2 separate regions of the Homo sapiens genome follow, and region 2 is linked to region 1. Evidence: fine-mapped expression QTL. Tissue or cell type: substantia nigra. Region 1 holds a variant in brackets; the other region holds the start of a gene. All regions are shown on one strand. Distances are from middle to middle.

Region 1 (8,228 bases):
TTGACATAGCACATTTATGAACATTTTATTACCAAATTTTGAAATCCATCTTATTCAGTACATTAATGTGCTTTATTTACAGAAAGAACATACTATTGATGCTATCTCAGAACACATGTTCTTTCTTGATTTTTTCACTCAGTCTTGAGAACTTCAGTTATAAGATGGGGCAATGTCATGTCAGATGTTTAGATAATAGGCCTCTGCAGTTTTATGACTTCTACATTCTGTTTTTTTCACCTTTTCCTTCAATCTGTGATGGGGCAAAAGTCTCACAGTGCTTTCCTTTCTTTCTTTTTTTTTTTTTTTTAATTCTCCAGGCCAAGAAGTTTCATCCACTTCTAATCAGGTAAGTAGAAAACAAAAAGCAAGACAAAAGAAAAACACAAACTTTTATTATGTTTGTCTGATAAATGCCAAAATACAGATGATTTATTCAAGAGTAGCATCTGTCTTCCTTTATTTGTAATTTCTAAATGTACTTTTAGAAATCATTCATATTTTAAATAATTTATATGGCAATTGTAATGCAGAAATGAAAGGAAATAAAAAACCAAAAAGTATTTCAACTGATCGAGATGAGTAGCAAGTTCTTACCGTTTTGGCCTCAATTCTGCTGAAGTCTAATTTTATTTATTTATTTATTTTTTGAGACAGAGTCACACTCTGTCATCCAGGCTGGGGTGCAGTGGCACGATCTCGGCTCACTGCAACCTCCACCTCCTGGGTTCAAGTGATTCTGGTGCCTCAGCCTCCCAGGTAGCTGGCTTTACAGGTGTGCACCACCACACCTGGCTAATTTTTTATTTTTAGTAGAGACAGGGTTTCACTATGTTGGCCAGGCTAGTCTCGAACTCCTGGCCTCAAGTGAATCCACTGGCCTCAGCCTCCCAAAGTGCAGGGGTAACAGGCATTAGTCACTGTGTCCAGCCTATTATTTTAATTTTCAAAGCTATTATAACAAAAACAGATGAAATTAAGTAAATTTATACTTAAAAACTGACCACCATAAAACATTAATTATTTTTAGCTTTCCACATTCCCTTTCAATCCTTATATCCAGGAATTAGCATTTGCATTGACAAGTATGGTGGAAACTATAACATATGGAAAAAAGTTTATTCCTTTTGATACTACCTCATAAAAATTTTGTTGATTTAATTAGTATATATTAATGTTTTTATTTTTTCTTTCCTTCACTGTCTATGCAATTGAAAATGTGCATAAACTCAATTTTTTCTTAGTATTTTATCTTATAAAAATTATAATGAATAATTACTTATTCATTACTTACTGAGGTCTGATTGTTGCAAACATTGCATCTCAGTGTGTGTGAACGAAAGTATAGAAGTGCTTTTCCCTGGATAGTTAGAGGCATAATAGCATCCTTCTTTTCTCTTTTATTATTCAAGTAAAATTAAAGCACAATTAGTAGAAGCTTGGAGTGCAGTTTATGCTGCTATAATGAGGTCTCTAAGACACCAGGGCTTGGAGCAAGGGCTTTTTTTTTTCTAGAAACATTTCTTACATTATATATATTTTATTATTTATTTATTTATTTATTTTTACTTTAAGTTCTGGGATACATGTGCTGAATGGGCAGGTCTGTTACATAGGAATACATGTGCCACGGTGCTTTGCTGAACCTATCAGCCCTTCATCTAGGGTTTAAACCCCCCATGCATTAGGTATTTGTTCTAATGCTCTCCCTCCCCTTGCCCCCCACACCCCAACAGGCCCGGGTGTGTGATGTTCCCCTCCCTGTGCCCATGTGTTCTCATTGTTCAACTTCCACTTATGAGTGGGAACATGCAGTGTGTGGTTTTCTGTTCCTGTGTTAGTTTGCTGAGAATGATGGTTTCCAGCTTCATCCATGTCCCTGCAAAGACCATAAACTTATTCTTTTTTATGGCTGCATAGTATTCCATGATGTATTTGTGGCACATTTTCTTTATCCAGTCTAACATTGATGGGCAGTTGAGTTGGTTCCAAGTCTTTGCTATTGTGAATAGTGCTGCAATAAAAATGCAAGTGCATGTGTCTTTATAGTAGAACGATTTATAATCCTTTGGGTATATACCCAGTAATGGGATTGCTGGGTCAAGTGGTATTTCTAGTTCTAGATCCTTGAGGAATTGCCACACTGTCTTCCTCAATGGTTGAACTAGTTTATACTCCCACCAACAGTGTAAAAGCGTTCCTATTTCTCCACATCCTCTCCAGCATCTGTTGTTTCCTGATTTTTAATGATCACCATTCTAACTGGCATGAGATGGTATCTCATTGTGGTTTTGATTTTCATTTCTCTAATGACTGGTGATGATTAGCTTTTTTTTCTTATGTTTTTTGGCTGCATAAATGTCTTCTTTTGAGAAGTGTCTGTTCATATCCTTCACCCACTTTTTGATGGGGTTGTTTTTTTCTTGTAAATTTGTTTAAGTTCTTTGTAGATTCTGGATATTAGCTCTTTGTCAGATGGATAGATTGCAAAATTTTTCTCCCATTCTGTAGATTGCCTGTTCACTCTGATGATAGTTCCTTTTGCCATGCAGAAGCCCTTTAGTTTAATTTGATCCCATTTGTCAATTTTGGCTTCTGTTGCAATTGCTTTTGGTGTTTTAGTCAAGAAGTCTTTGCCCATGCCTATGTCCTGAATGGTATTGCCCAAGTTTTCTTCTAGGGTTTTTATGGTTTTAGGTCCTACATTTAAATCTTTAATCCAACTTGAGTTAATTTTTGTATAAGGTGTAAGGAAGGGGTCCAGTTTCAGTTTTCTGCATATGGCTAGCCAGTTTTCCTAACATCATTTATTAAATAGTGAATCATTTCCCCATTGCTTGCTTTTCTCAGGTTTGTCAAAGATCAGATGGTTGTAGCTGTGTGGTGTCATTTCTGAGGCCTCTGTTCTGTTCCATTGGTCTATATATCTGTTTTGGTAGCAGTACCATGCTGTTTTGGTTACTGTAGCCTTGTAGTATAGTTTGAAGTCAGGTAGCGTGATGCCTCCAGCTTTGTTCTTTTTGCTTAGGATTGTCTTGGCTATATGGGCACTTTTTTGTTTCCATATGAAATTTAAAGAAGCTTTTTTTCTAATTATGTGAAGAAAGACAATGGTAGCTTGATGGGAATAGCATTGAATCTATAAATTACTTTGGGCAGTATGGCCATTTTCACAATATTGATTCTTCCTATCCATGAGCATGGAGTGTTTTTCCATTTGTTTGTGTCCTCTTTTATTTCCTTGAGCAGTGGTTTTTAGTTTCCTTGAAGAGGTGCTTTACGTCCCTTGTAAGTTGTATTCCTAGGTATTTTATTCTCTTTGTATTGTGAATACAAAGAGAATAAAACACAATTTGCAATTGTGAATGGGAGTCCACTCATGATTTGGCTCT[C/T]TTTGTCTGTTATTGGTGTAGAGGAATGCTTGTGAATTTTGCACATTGATTTTGTATCCTGAGACTTTGCTGAAGTTGCTTATTAGGTTAAGGAGTTTTTGGGCTGAGACGATGTGATTTTCTAAACATACAATCACGTCATCTGCAAACAGAGACAATGTGACTTTTTCTCTTCCTATTTGAATACCCTTTATTTCTTTCTCTTGCCTGATTGCCCTGGTCAGAACTCCCAATACTATGTTGAATAGGAGTGGAGAGAGAGGGCATACTTTTCTTGTGCTGGTTTTCAAAGGGAATGCTTCCAACTTTTGCCCATTCAGTATGATGTTGACTGTAGGTTTGCCATAAATAGCTCTTATTATTTTGAGATAGGTTTGATCAGTACCTAGTTTATTGAGTGTTCTTAGCATGAAGGGGTGTTAAATTTTATCGAAGGCCTTTTCTGCATCTATTGAGATATTCATGTGGTTTTTGTCATTGGTTCTTTCTGTTTAATAGATTACGTTTATTGATTTGTGTATGTTGAACCAGTCTTGCATCCCAGGGATGGAGCCGACTTGATCGTGGTGGATATGCTTTTTAATGTGCTGCTGGATTTGGTTTTCCAGTGTTTTATTGAGGATGTTCGCATTGATGTTCATCAGGGATATTGGCCTGAAATTTTCTATTTTTGTTTTGTCTCTGGCAAGTTTTCATATCAGGGTGATGCTGGCCTCATAAAATGAGTTAGGGAGGAGTCCCTATTCTTCTATTGTTTGGAATAGTTTGAGAAGGAATGGTACCAGCTCCTCTTTGTATCTCTGGTAGAATTCAGCTGTGAATCCATCTAGTCATGGGCTTTTTTTGGTTGGTAGGCTAATTAATTACTGCTTCAGTTTCAGAACTTGTTATTGGTCCATTCAGGGATTCAACTTCTTCCTGGTTTAGTCTTGGAAGGTGTGTGTGTCCAGGAATTTATCCATTTCTTCTAGATTTTCTAGTTTATTTGTGTAGAAATGTTTATAGTATTCTCTGATGGTAGTTTGTATTTCTGTGGAATCAGTGGTAGTCTCCCCTCTATTATTTTTTAGTGTGTCTATTTGATTCTTCTGTCTTTCTTCATTATTAGTCTGGCTAGTGGTCTATCTGTTTTGTTAATCTTTTCAAAAAAACCAGCTCCTGGATTTATTGATTTTTTGAAGGGTTTTTCATGTCTCTATCTCCTTCAGTTCTGCTCTGATCTTAGTTATTTCTTGTCTTCTGCTAGCTTTTGAATTTGTTTGCTGTTGCTTCTCTAGTTTTTTAAATTGTGATGTTAGGGTATTGATTTTAGATCTTTCCCGCTTTCTTCTGTTTGCATTTAGTGCTATAAATTTCCCTCTAAACACTGCTTTAGCTGTGTCCCAGAGGTTCTGGTTTGTTGTGTCTTTGTTCTCATTGGTTTCAAAGAACATCTTTATTTCTGCCTACATTTTATTATTTACCCAGTAGTCATTCAGGAGCAGGTTGTTCAGTTTCCATGTAGTTTTGCGGTTTTGAGTGAGTTTCTTAATCCTGAGTTCTAATTTGATTTGCACTGTGGTCTGAGAGACTTTTTGTTATGATTTCTGTTCTTTTGCATTTGCTGAGGAGTGTTTTACTTCCAAATATGTGGTTGATTTTAGGATAAGTGCTATTTCGTGCTGAGAAGAATATATATTTTGTTGATTTGGGGTGGAGAGATCTGTAGATGTTTATTTGGTCCACTTGGTCCAGAGCTGAGTTCAAGTCCTGAATATCCTTGTTAATCTTCTGTCTCGTTGATCTGTCTAATATTGACAGTGGGGTGTTAAAATCTCCCACTATTGTTGTGTTGGAGTCTGAGTCTCTTTTTAGGTCTCTAAAGACTTGCTTTATGAATCTGGGTGCTCCTGTATTCGGTGCATATATATTTAGGATAGTTAGCTCTTCTTGTTGCATTAATCCCTTTACCGTTATGTAATGGCCTTCTTTGTCTCTTTTGATCTTTGTTGGTTTAAAGTCTGTTTTATCAGATTGCACCACCTGCTCTTTTTTGCTTTCCATTTGCTTCGTAAATCTTCCTCCATCCCTTTATTTTGAGTGTATGTGTGTCTCTGCATGTGAGATGGGTCTCCTGAATACAGCACACTGATGGATCTTGAATCTTTATCCAATTTGCCAGTCTGTGTCTTTTAATTGGGCCATTTAGCCCATTTACATTTAAGTTTAATATTGTTATGTGTGAATTTGATCCTGTCCTTATGATGCTAGCTGGTTATTTTGCTCATTAGTTGAGCAGTTTCTTCATAGTGTCAATGGACTTTACATTTTGGTTTGTTTTTGCAGTGGGTGGTACTGGTTTTTCCTTTGTATATTTAGTGCTTCCTTCAGGAGTTCTTGTAAGGCAGGCCTCATGGTGACAAAATCCCTCAGTATTTCCTTCTCTGTAAAGGATTTTATTTCTCCTTCACTTATGAAGCTTAGTTTAGCTAGATATGAAATTCTGGGTTGAAAATTCTTGTCTTTAAGAATGTTGAATATTGGCCCCCACTCTCTTCTGGCTTGTAGGGTTTCTGCAGAGAGATCCGCCATTAGTCTGATGGGCTTCCCTTTGTGGGTAACCCAACCTTTCTTTCTGGTTGTCCTTAACATTTTTTCCTTCATTTCAACGTCGGTGAATCTGATGATTATGTGTCTTGGGGTTGCTCTTCTCAGGAGTATCTTTGTGATGTTCTCTGTACTTTCTGAATTACAATGTTGGCCTGTCTTGCCAGGTTGGGGAAATTCTCCTGGATAATATCCTGAAGTGTGTTTTCCAACTTGATTCCATTCTCCCCGTCACTTTCAGGTACACCAATCAAATGTAGGTTTGATCTTTGTTCACATAGTCCCATATTTCTTGGAGGCTTTGTTTGTTCCTTTTCATTTTTTTTTCTCTAACATTGTCTTCATGCTTTATTTCATTAAGTTGATCTTCTATGTCTGACATCCTTTCTTCTGCCCGATCAATTTGGCTATTGATACTTGTGTATGCTTCACGAAGTTTTCGTGCTATGTTTTTCAGCTCCATCAGGTCATTTATGTTTTTCTCTAATCTAGTTATTCTAGTTAGCAATTCCTGTAACCTTTTTTCAAGGTTCTTAGCTTCCTTGCATTGGCTTGGAACATGCTCCTTTAGATCGGAAGAGTTTATTACCCACCTTCTGAAGCCCACCTCTGTCAATTTGACATACTCATTTTCCGTCCAGTTTTGTTCCCTTGCTGGCGAGGAGTTGTGATCTTTTGGAGGAGAAGAGGCATTCTGGTATTTGGAATTTTCAGCCTTTTTGAGCTGCTTTTTCTTCATCTTTGTGGATTTATCTACCTTTGGTCTTTGCTCTTGGTGACCTTTGTATGGAGTTTTTGCGTGGTTGTCCTTTTTGTTGATGTTGACGCTATTGCTTTCTGTTTGTTAGTTTTCCTTCTAACAACCAGGCCCGTATTCTGCAGGTCTGCTGGAGTTTGCTGGGGATCCACTCCAGATTCTGTTTGCATGTGTATTACCAGTGGAGACTGCAGAACAGCAAAGATTGCTGCCTACTCCTTCCTCTGGAAGCTTTGTCCCAGCAGGGCACCTGCCAGATGCCAGCTGGAGCTCTCTTGTATGAGGTGTCTGTCGATCCCTGTTGGGAGGTGTTTCCTTGTCAGGAGGCATGAGGGTCAGCGACCCACTTGAGGAGGCCATCTTTCCCTTAGCAGTGCTTGAGCACTGTGCTGGGAGATCTGCTGCTCTCTTCAGAGCCAACAGGTAGGCAGGAATGTTTAAGTCCGTTGAAGCTGCACCCACAGCCTTTCCTTCTGTAAGCCCCTGACTGGGGCTGCTGCCTTTCTTTCAGAGATGCCCTGCACAGAGAGGAGAAATATAGAGAGGCAGTCTGGCCACAGTGGCTTTGTGGTGTTGGAGTGGGCTCAGTCCAGCCCAAATTCCCCTGCGGCTTTGTTTACACTGTGAGGGGAAAACTGCCTACTCAAGCCTCAGTAATGGCAGATGCCCCTTCCCCCACCAAGCTCGAATGTCCCAGGTCGACTTCAGACTGCTGTGCTGGCAGCAAGAATTTCAAGCCAGAGGATCTTAGCTTGCTGGGCTCCATGGTGGTGGGACCCACTGAGCAAGACCACTTGGCTCCCTGGCTTCAGCCCCTTTTCCAGGGGAGTAAACAGTTCTTTCTCATTGGTGTTCCAGGCACCACTGAGGTATGAAAAAAACTCCTGCAGCTAGCTTGGTGTCTGCTCAAATGGCCACTCAGTTTTGTGCTTGAAACCCAGTTTTATGCTTGAAACCCAGGGCCCTTGTGGTGTAGGCACCCAAAGGAATCTCCTGGTCTGTGGGTTGCAAAGACCGTGGGAAAAGTGTAGTGTCTGGGCTGGATAGCACTGTCCCTCAAGGTATGGTCCTTCATGGCTTCCCTTGGCTAAGGGAGGGAGTTCCCCAATCCCTTGCACTTCCTGTGTGAGGTGATGCCCCACCCTGCTTCTGTTCACCCTCTGTGGGCTACACTCACTGTCTAACCAGTCCCAATGAGATGAACTGGGTACCTCAGTTGGAAATGCAGAAATCACCCGCCTTCTCTATTGGTCTTGCTGGGAGCTGCAGACTGGAGCTGTTCCTATTCAGCTTTGTTCTTTTTGCTTAGGATTGTCTTGGCTAAACAGGCTCTTTTTTGGTTCCATATGGAATTTAAAGTAGTTTTTTCTAGTTCTGCGAAGAAAGTCGGGGAGCTTGATGGAAATAGCATTGAATCTATAAATTACTTTGGGCAGTATTTCCATTTTTATGATATTGCTTCTTCCTATCCTTGAACATGGAATATTTTTCCA
Region 2 (8,228 bases), 530 kb after region 1:
CTCCAATTCCTTTGATCAGCATTTTATATTTCTCATTGTAGAGATCTTTCACCACCGTCATTAGCTGTATTCTTTTCATGGCCATAGTGAATAGGATTGAGCTCCTGATTTGGCTCTTACCTTGGCTGCTATTGGTGTATAGAAATGACACTGACTTTTGTACATTGATTTTGTATGCTGAAACTTTGCTGAAGTTATTTATCAAATCAGGGAGCTTTTGGACAGAGACTATGGGGTTTTCCAGATATAGAATGGTATCATCTATAAAGAGAGATATGTTGACTTCCTTCCTTCCTGTTTAAATGCTTTTCATTTTTCACTCTTGCCTAATTGCTCTGGCTAAGACTTCCTACATAATACATATTAATACTTAATGTGTATGTACCTAACAACATAATGTCAAAATAGATGAGGCAAAAACATATAGGACAACAAAAGAGAAATACATAAATCTGCAATTAAAGTTGGATATTCAGCACCCCTCTGTTAGTAACTGATACATCCAGAGGCAGGAAAACAGTAAGAATATAACTGAACAGCACCATCAACCAACTGGATCTATTTCACATCTGTGGACTACTCCATTCAACAACATTAGAATACACACTCATCAAAGTACACCACATTCTGGTCTATAAAACAGACTTTCACAAATTATACCTGCCTCACAGTCTTCTTAGAAGGGTTACACTGGTTAAACCAAAACTTTATTGTCACTAAGAAATTGTAAAGAATCTCTAAACTCATTATAAGCTCCCAGGCTTCATGGAGACACCATCACAGAGTAATTCATTACATCCTGGATTTTTTTTAATTGATCGCACCTACTGAAACCCCTTGTCTATAATATCCATCACCGCTCCAACTTGTTAATGAGTAACTTCCATCTCTGCAGAAAGAAAAAGATGCTCAATCTTTGGTCAGAGCCTCCAAGGAGTATGATTGAATCTTTGACAGCCATATTTTCCTCTAAAGAATTTATGTTTCTGTGCAGATGAAGATGGAAATGGAAATGTAAAAAGGAGATGCTGAGAGGGGCTGAGCCTTGTGCAAAAGTAGAGAGTGGGTTTAGGCAGGAGCACGGTCATTTCATACGCTGTCACAGGAAACAAGGCTGAGTATATGGTACAGAATGAGGGAGGCTGATACAGTTCATGGAAGAAAAGTTTGAAATCTGATTGTTTTATTAACAGGTTTGTTTATTTTTCCCAGAGGAGTCTAAGAGATGTGGAAGTGGGGTAAGGTTTGGGGAAAGCAGGAGGAGGCATGGATCACTACTTTTCAGAGAAAGTCTGCAGAGAACAAGAACATACTGTGACGTGGCAAAAGGGCCATGAGATTTGTATTCATAAATCTGAGATGTATTGTCATAAATTTGAGGTGAGATGCATCATCATATATTGGACTTTCCTCAAGTCACGTTTCATTGCTGTGTATGGATCTTACAGGGACGGTAACAGGCTGAGAATGAGTTTTACCTGGGTTTGAGTTTTGCACTGAGTTAAATGCAAGCAGCACCACATTGCAGCAGGGAAAAACATAGAAGTTACCAAAGACTAACAAGAGCAATAAAAAATCTGTATGTGATCATAACTGGTCCACTCTTCTTATTTAAAGCACTAGAATGGCTTTGTCCAGTTTCGTACTTCATCGTATTTGCATCCAGTATTTATTGAGTCTCATCTCATCATCTCCTAGGACAAAGGGTGCCAAGATAATTCAAGAATCCAGCATTACTTTAGTTCCGGTTCCATCCATGTTGTTGCAAATGAAAGGAATTCACTCTTATTTTTTTTTATGGTTGAATAGTGTTCTATGTATCTAGTAAATTTTCATTATCCATTATATTACATGAAATAAGCCAGGCACAGAAAGACAAACTTTGAGCATTCTTGCTCATATGTGGGAGCTAAAATTAAAAAATAATAAATATAGTAGAATGACTGTTACCAGAGGCTCGGCAGAGTAGAGTAGAGTGGGGAATAAACTGGAGATGATTAATGGGCTCAAAAATACAGTTAGGATGAATAAGACTTAGAATGTAGTAGCACAACAGGATGACTATAGTTAACAATAATTTATTGTATATTTCAAAATAACTAAAAGTGGAATTGGAACATTTCTAACAGAAAAAATTAATAAATGCTTGAGGTAATAGGTACCCCAAATACCCTTATTTGCTCATTACACATTGAATGCCTGTATTGAAACATCACATGTACCTCATGAATATATGCAACCATTAGATAATCATAATAATTCTAAAAAATTAAAGGAAAAAAACAAAGAACATGGATATTAATTTTATAGCATTATTTCTAATTTCTGACATAAAATATAGCAGTTAGTGCCTTCAAAGATAAAAAAAGAACAATATAACCCCAAATAAAGTGTTCTTTTCTAGTTAACCAATGTATGGATTAAAGAGGTTAAGAGATGCTACAGTTGATTGAGCCCTTCCTCTGCAACAGACACTATGTAAACATTTGGCATACATCATTCTATTTAATTATTAGAATGTCCCTCAAATTAGTCCAGTTGTAAAGATTAGTAACAGGCTGAAATCTTAAGTAATTTTCCCAACTCAGCTTCCTAATTAGTGGCATAGCTGTCAGACTAGAGTATTCTCTCTGACTCTAAATGCTCATTTTATCACATTGTCTCTAAGAGTCAGCTTTCACTTTAGTAGAATAGCTAAATGGATATATATTGTCATGTATCAATTATCTACCCCCACCTAACAAGTAGAAGGAAGTGTTTTATCCTAGTATAATTTAATTTAGTCACAATCATCAATCATTCCCCCTGGAAACTCACTAAAGAGTGGACAGGAAACTATCCTTGGGACTAGTTCTGCTATTACTGAGTCGAGTACTTGTAAGTGGTTCCTGCACTTTTTTAATCCGGAATTCTCTAACTTACATGATGACAGAATTTCCATAAACATAATTTAACATCTTCTATAGCTCTGAAATCATGTACTGGAATATTAAATACACCCCTCTTTAGTCTGATTCTGGGTAGCAGCTGAATGCAGCAAAGTTGATTGGGTTGGTTGATTTGCTTTAAGTTCAGAATTTGAGTTCATCCCCAAATCAGCAAAGTCAAGTGAAGTGACCAAGGTTTTGGCCCCCGTGGACTTGGACACTGGAGATCAATTAGAGGAGAAAGAGGAATATCTAAGGGTTGGTGACTTAAGGTTCTGTGTGTAAAATATAGCCATTCATCCTTCTGTCTTCCAATGGTGGAACCTGAGAGACTTCAGTGTAAAATGCCTTATTCTGTTCTCACTGAAACAAGGTAAGAGGAAAGGAAGAGACTTTATCTAAACACTGCATATGCAAACAGGATAATATTTCACAAGAGCTGGTGAAGTTGTTTTCTGATTTCACCATAAAGACAATGACTAGCTGTGGGAGCTGTAAGGAATGAATATTATAAAGTGTTACCTGGTGTTTCTTCCTCATGAATTTTGGCAGATAAAGAAGAGATTCTCACTTCAGAAAGAGTTTTGGTTTAATGCAGAGCCTATTGATCAGTGATATAATGTTATTGATAGCCTGATATACTATCAGAACATAGTTTGATGCTTACATGTTTTAAATAATTATATGGAATGTTTGCAGATTATGATGTCACTGTAAAGCTGCTGCTTTTTTTTTTTTTTTTTGAGATGGAGTCTCACTATGTCACCCAGGCTGGAGTGCAGGGTCACGATCTCAGCTCACTGCAACTTCTGCCTCCCAGGTTCAAGTGATTCTTCTGCCTCAGCCTCCCGAGTGGATGGGATCACAGGCGCATGCCACCACGCCTGGCTAATTTTTGTGTTTTTAGTAGAGATGGGGTGTCACCATATTGGTCAGGCTGGTCCCGAACTCCTGACCTCGTGATCCGCCCGCCTTGGCCTCCCAAAGTGCTGGGCTTACAGACCTGAGCCACTGCGCCTGGCCATAAAACTGCTTTTTATACCACTATATAAACTGAAGAACTTCGGGCAAAGTGAGTCATAGTAATATAACTGAATTGAGTTGATTTGGGTCGGCTTTATCCTAGAAAGCTTTTTTGGAAATGTTTTCCTATCATCAGGAAACTCTCTGCTGCACAGGGAATAGACAGTTCCATAACAAATTGAAAAAGAAGGCTGGGCACCCAGGTGGCTCATGCCTGTAATCCCAGCACTTTGGGAGGCCGAGGTGGGCAGATCACGAGGTCAGGAGATCGAGACCATCCTGGCTAACACAGTGAAACCCGGTCTCTACTGAAAATACAAAAATAAAAATTAGCCGGGCGTGGTGGTGGGCGCCTGTAGTCCCAGCTACTGGGGAGGCTGAGGCAGGAGAAGGGCGTGAACCCGGGAGGCGGAGCTTGCAGTGAGCCAAGATCAGGCCACTGCACTCCAGCCTGGGCGACACAGTGAGACTCTGTCTCAAAAAAAAAAAAAATGAAAACCAAGAGTGAACTAAAAATGTAAAAAAAGGTAACATGAACTTGTTAGAGTTGCACTATGTGCAGCTCTCAAACAATGTGACATTAATAAAAACATTTTCTCAGGGCGTGAGGGCTCTCCATGGTTAACACAGGGAATGGGCAAAGGACAGTGACAATTACTAAGGACCTACTATGTGCTGAACACACAGAACTGTGAATTCTCTTTATAGTTGTCCTATACGTTGTTGAGATTGAGGGAGCTGAGTCTATGACTATTTGCTATTGGTCTCCTGCTGATTGTTTAAAAGAGTTTTAAGAAGCATTCACTAATTGTAATTTTGCAAAATAAATTCAGGACCCTACACTTGCTACACTTACATTGTTAGTTTCTGTGAAATGAGGTGTTTTTTAACTCTATAAATTTCAGCAACGTATCTTTTAGAATGAGAAAGAAAATAAACTTTTTATCTGAGGAATAAGTAGCCCCCTTTAAATTATCAGGCCCAGCAAGATTGAAATGTGGCCGCAGTCACATCTCACTCTTTCTTGAGCTAGGTAATCATCTCTTGAATCTACGTGCTATGGGGGCTCTGGACTGACTTGTGGCAACTAACCATGAATTAACCTATCAATCCCCTAAACCACATATCCTATAGTTAAATAATGCATAACCAATCACTGATCAATGTTGTTTCTGAAACCAGTGAGACTTGCTGATAAATAACTTTAGAATTTGTCTCCACTCCTGATTCCTCCCTTTCTTTACCTTAAAAACTTGGGTCTCTTCTTGTTCTCCAGGTTACTTGCCACAGAAGTGTTTCTGGGCTGCAGCCCTCAACCTTGGCCCAAATAAACTTTCTGTATTAATTTTGCCTTAGTGTCGTTCTTTAAGTCAACAAGGATGGCCAAGGCAGTCACTAATCTCACACTCACCTGATAGCCACAGGAACAACATTTTCCCAGCTATAAGGTAACCGACAGAATGATGCTTCATGTAATTCTGGTGCATGAAATAAGGTCCCATGTCTAACAAGGAAAGCTGCTGGACATCAATGGAAATAGATCCTAAACTCAAACTCCAATATCCCATGACCTAAAATCTCCAAGTCCCAGATTCACAGGATCCTAAAAGTAACTATTCTCTTCCATTGCCTAACAACATGCCACTTTTCCATTTTTGGAAACAAAATCATTATTGTAGTAACTGCCATAAAACAATCTTTATAATACTCTGAGCTATAGTCTATGCAACAAAGAATCAAAATGTCTCTCTTCAAAACAACTCCAGGATGGAACACATAAACCTACACCCAAGTCAGCTTGTTCAGGGCTCGGTATTGGATACACCTCATGGGATCATGCTGGCAGCTTTCTTCCCCTGGATTTAAACCTGGATTAAACAAAGGAATTCAGAAAGCACTACAAAAGGCTTTTCCAATTTCCAGGACATGTTGGGCATCCCCTAAGGCCTGGGCACATCAGGACAGTTGGTCGCCCACTTGGGGATGGGACAGCACCTGATGAATCATTCTATCCCCACTGCCTCACTCAGTGACTACTGCATCAAAGGCTGTCAACATGTTAATCTGATAAAATTAATCAAATATTTGCTTGGAACTAAATTACTAGGATAGTTCTTACTGATAGAATGAAGCCACATGAGTTACAAAATCAATCTTTATCATACATACCCTGGAAATTAGAAAAGTCGTTTGGAATACTTTTTGAATTCCTTTGTTTAATCCAATGATCTCTCTGCTTTTTTATTTTTCTATAGAATCGTAATCACTACATAACATCACTGTATGTTTGAGTTTGTTGGTCTATTGTTTGTATAATTATCTCAATTTTAATTACATATTCTAAAATCCTTTGTGTTTCATCACCAAAGCACATCAGTAGCTAGCAGCACTGTCATAAAACATAAATTCAGTGAACACTATTTGAGGAAATGAATGTATCATAATGATGGTTTTCATGTTTTTTTCTGATCAGTTTTTATTTCTAAAGCACTATAAGAAGCAGAGAGTGCCTGTGATCCCATTTGGCATCCAAGTCCAATGCTACTGTGCACCTGTCATGTTCCCAACTTTTCATTGTTAGTGTTTATTCCTTAGACAGCTATAGAAATGAATTTCCATTTTTTTTCCTGTGGCAGGCTCTCTTTCACAATTGTATTCATGCTACCCAAGGTTATATGAACTAACAGTTGAGTTTAAGTTCCTAAATGTGAATAATTGCAACAAACTATGATTTGCTTTTGAACAGCAAAAGTTGAAAAATCAGTAACCCAAGATGACTAACCAAATCAATATGCTGGGCAGGATGAGACATCAGTGTCTGCCTCAGACAGAAGAGCACACACAAAACATGACCTCTCACTCCAAGCCCAGGTAAAGGAAGAAGTCACACAGATGTTAGAAATATAGTTTACGAATACCTGGGAAACTGCATGAAGAAAAAAACAAACTGCCAGATTTGGGGTGGTGTAAAGAGAAAAAGAGAGATTCTAAAAGTCATAAATAAAAATTCCCAAGGAAAAGCCTAGGCATAAAAAGCTAGACAAACTTTCCAGGGAGGGAAAATTATTTATTTTTGTTTGCTTGATTTCTTTATTCTCAATTATTAACATTTAATTGTGTTGTTCTATCTAATTAAATTGGAAGACATGCTTAAGCCATAAATTACAATTGTTCTACTGCTCACACTGGCTTTTCCAGTTGAATAGATTTGTAGCTGCTTGACTCTGCTGTCATCTACAGTAATGAAAATCAAACTATAAGAACAGAAAGTGAATATCCTCTCTAATCTCCATATGCTTCAGATATAGAAATTGATTAAAAAAAACCTGCAGTGTTAGTGGAGAAACAACTCATTCTAAACAAACATTGATAAAGTCAGTTCCTTTTTGTTTTTCTATTGTGTTTTATTTCATGTTTTGTGCTTTGCTTTTGTTTCTATTTCTCTTTCAACAGTTACAGCAGAAAGTTTTCATGGAGAAATGGAATCACACTTCAAATGATTTCATTTTGTTGGGTCTGCTTCCCCCAAATCAAACTGGAATATTTCTCTTGTGCCTTATCATCCTCATATTCTTTCTGGCCTCGGTGGGTAACTCGGCCATGATTCACCTCATCCACGTGGATCCTCGTCTCCACACACCGATGTACTTTCTTCTCAGCCAGCTCTCCCTTATGGACCTGATGTACATCTCCACCACCGTCCCCAAGATGGCGTACAACTTCCTGTCCGGCCAGAAAGGCATCTCCTTCCTGGGATGTGGTGTGCAAAGCTTCTTCTTCCTGACCATGGCGTGTTCTGAAGGCTTACTCCTGACCTCCATGGCCTACGACCGTTATTTGGCCATCTGCCACTCTCTCTATTATCCTATCCGCATGAGTAAAATGATGTGTGTGAAGATGATTGGAGGCTCTTGGACACTGGGGTCCATCAACTCCTTGGCACACACAGTCTTTGCCCTTCATATTCCCTACTGCAGGTCTAGGGCTATTGACCATTTCTTCTGCGATGTCCCAGCCATGTTGCTTCTTGCCTGTACAGATACTTGGGTCTATGAATATATGGTTTTTGTAAGTACAAGCCTCTTTCTCCTTTTCCCTTTCATTGGCATCACTTCTTCCTGTGGCCGAGTCCTATTTGCTGTCTATCATATGCACTCAAAGGAGGGGAGAAAAAAGGCCTTCACCACCATTTCAACACATTTAACTGTAGTGATCTTTTACTATGCACCTTTTGTCTACACCTATCTTCGGCCCAGGAATCTCCGCTCACCAGCTGAA

The links. PIP is the estimated chance that this variant, and not a neighbour inherited with it, causes the effect.
Region 2: OR2L13 starts here. The variant in region 1 is fine-mapped to the expression of OR2L13 in substantia nigra (GTEx, PIP above 0.99).

What each region holds. Positions count from the first base shown.
Region 1 is chr1:247,565,611-247,573,838 of GRCh38, forward strand. It overlaps GCSAML (germinal center associated signaling and motility like), which reads left to right. Exons shown (of 5, transcript NM_145278.5): 4 at 321-349. LOC102724446 (a long non-coding RNA gene) reads right to left here. Exons shown (of 3, transcript NR_188589.1): 3 at 29-341. Among named protein-coding and RNA genes, the nearest start is that of OR2G2, 19 kb to the right of the region's middle. The variant C/T (reference allele first, on the strand shown) is at 3,393.
Region 2 is chr1:248,091,955-248,100,182 of GRCh38, forward strand. It overlaps OR2L13 (olfactory receptor family 2 subfamily L member 13), which reads left to right and starts at 3,230. Exons shown (of 3, transcript NM_001395936.1): 1 at 3,230-3,300; 2 at 6,697-6,821; 3 at 7,404-8,228. The coding sequence starts at 7,422. LOC105373275 (a long non-coding RNA gene) reads right to left here and starts at 3,588. Exons shown (of 4, transcript XR_949369.3): 1 at 3,450-3,588.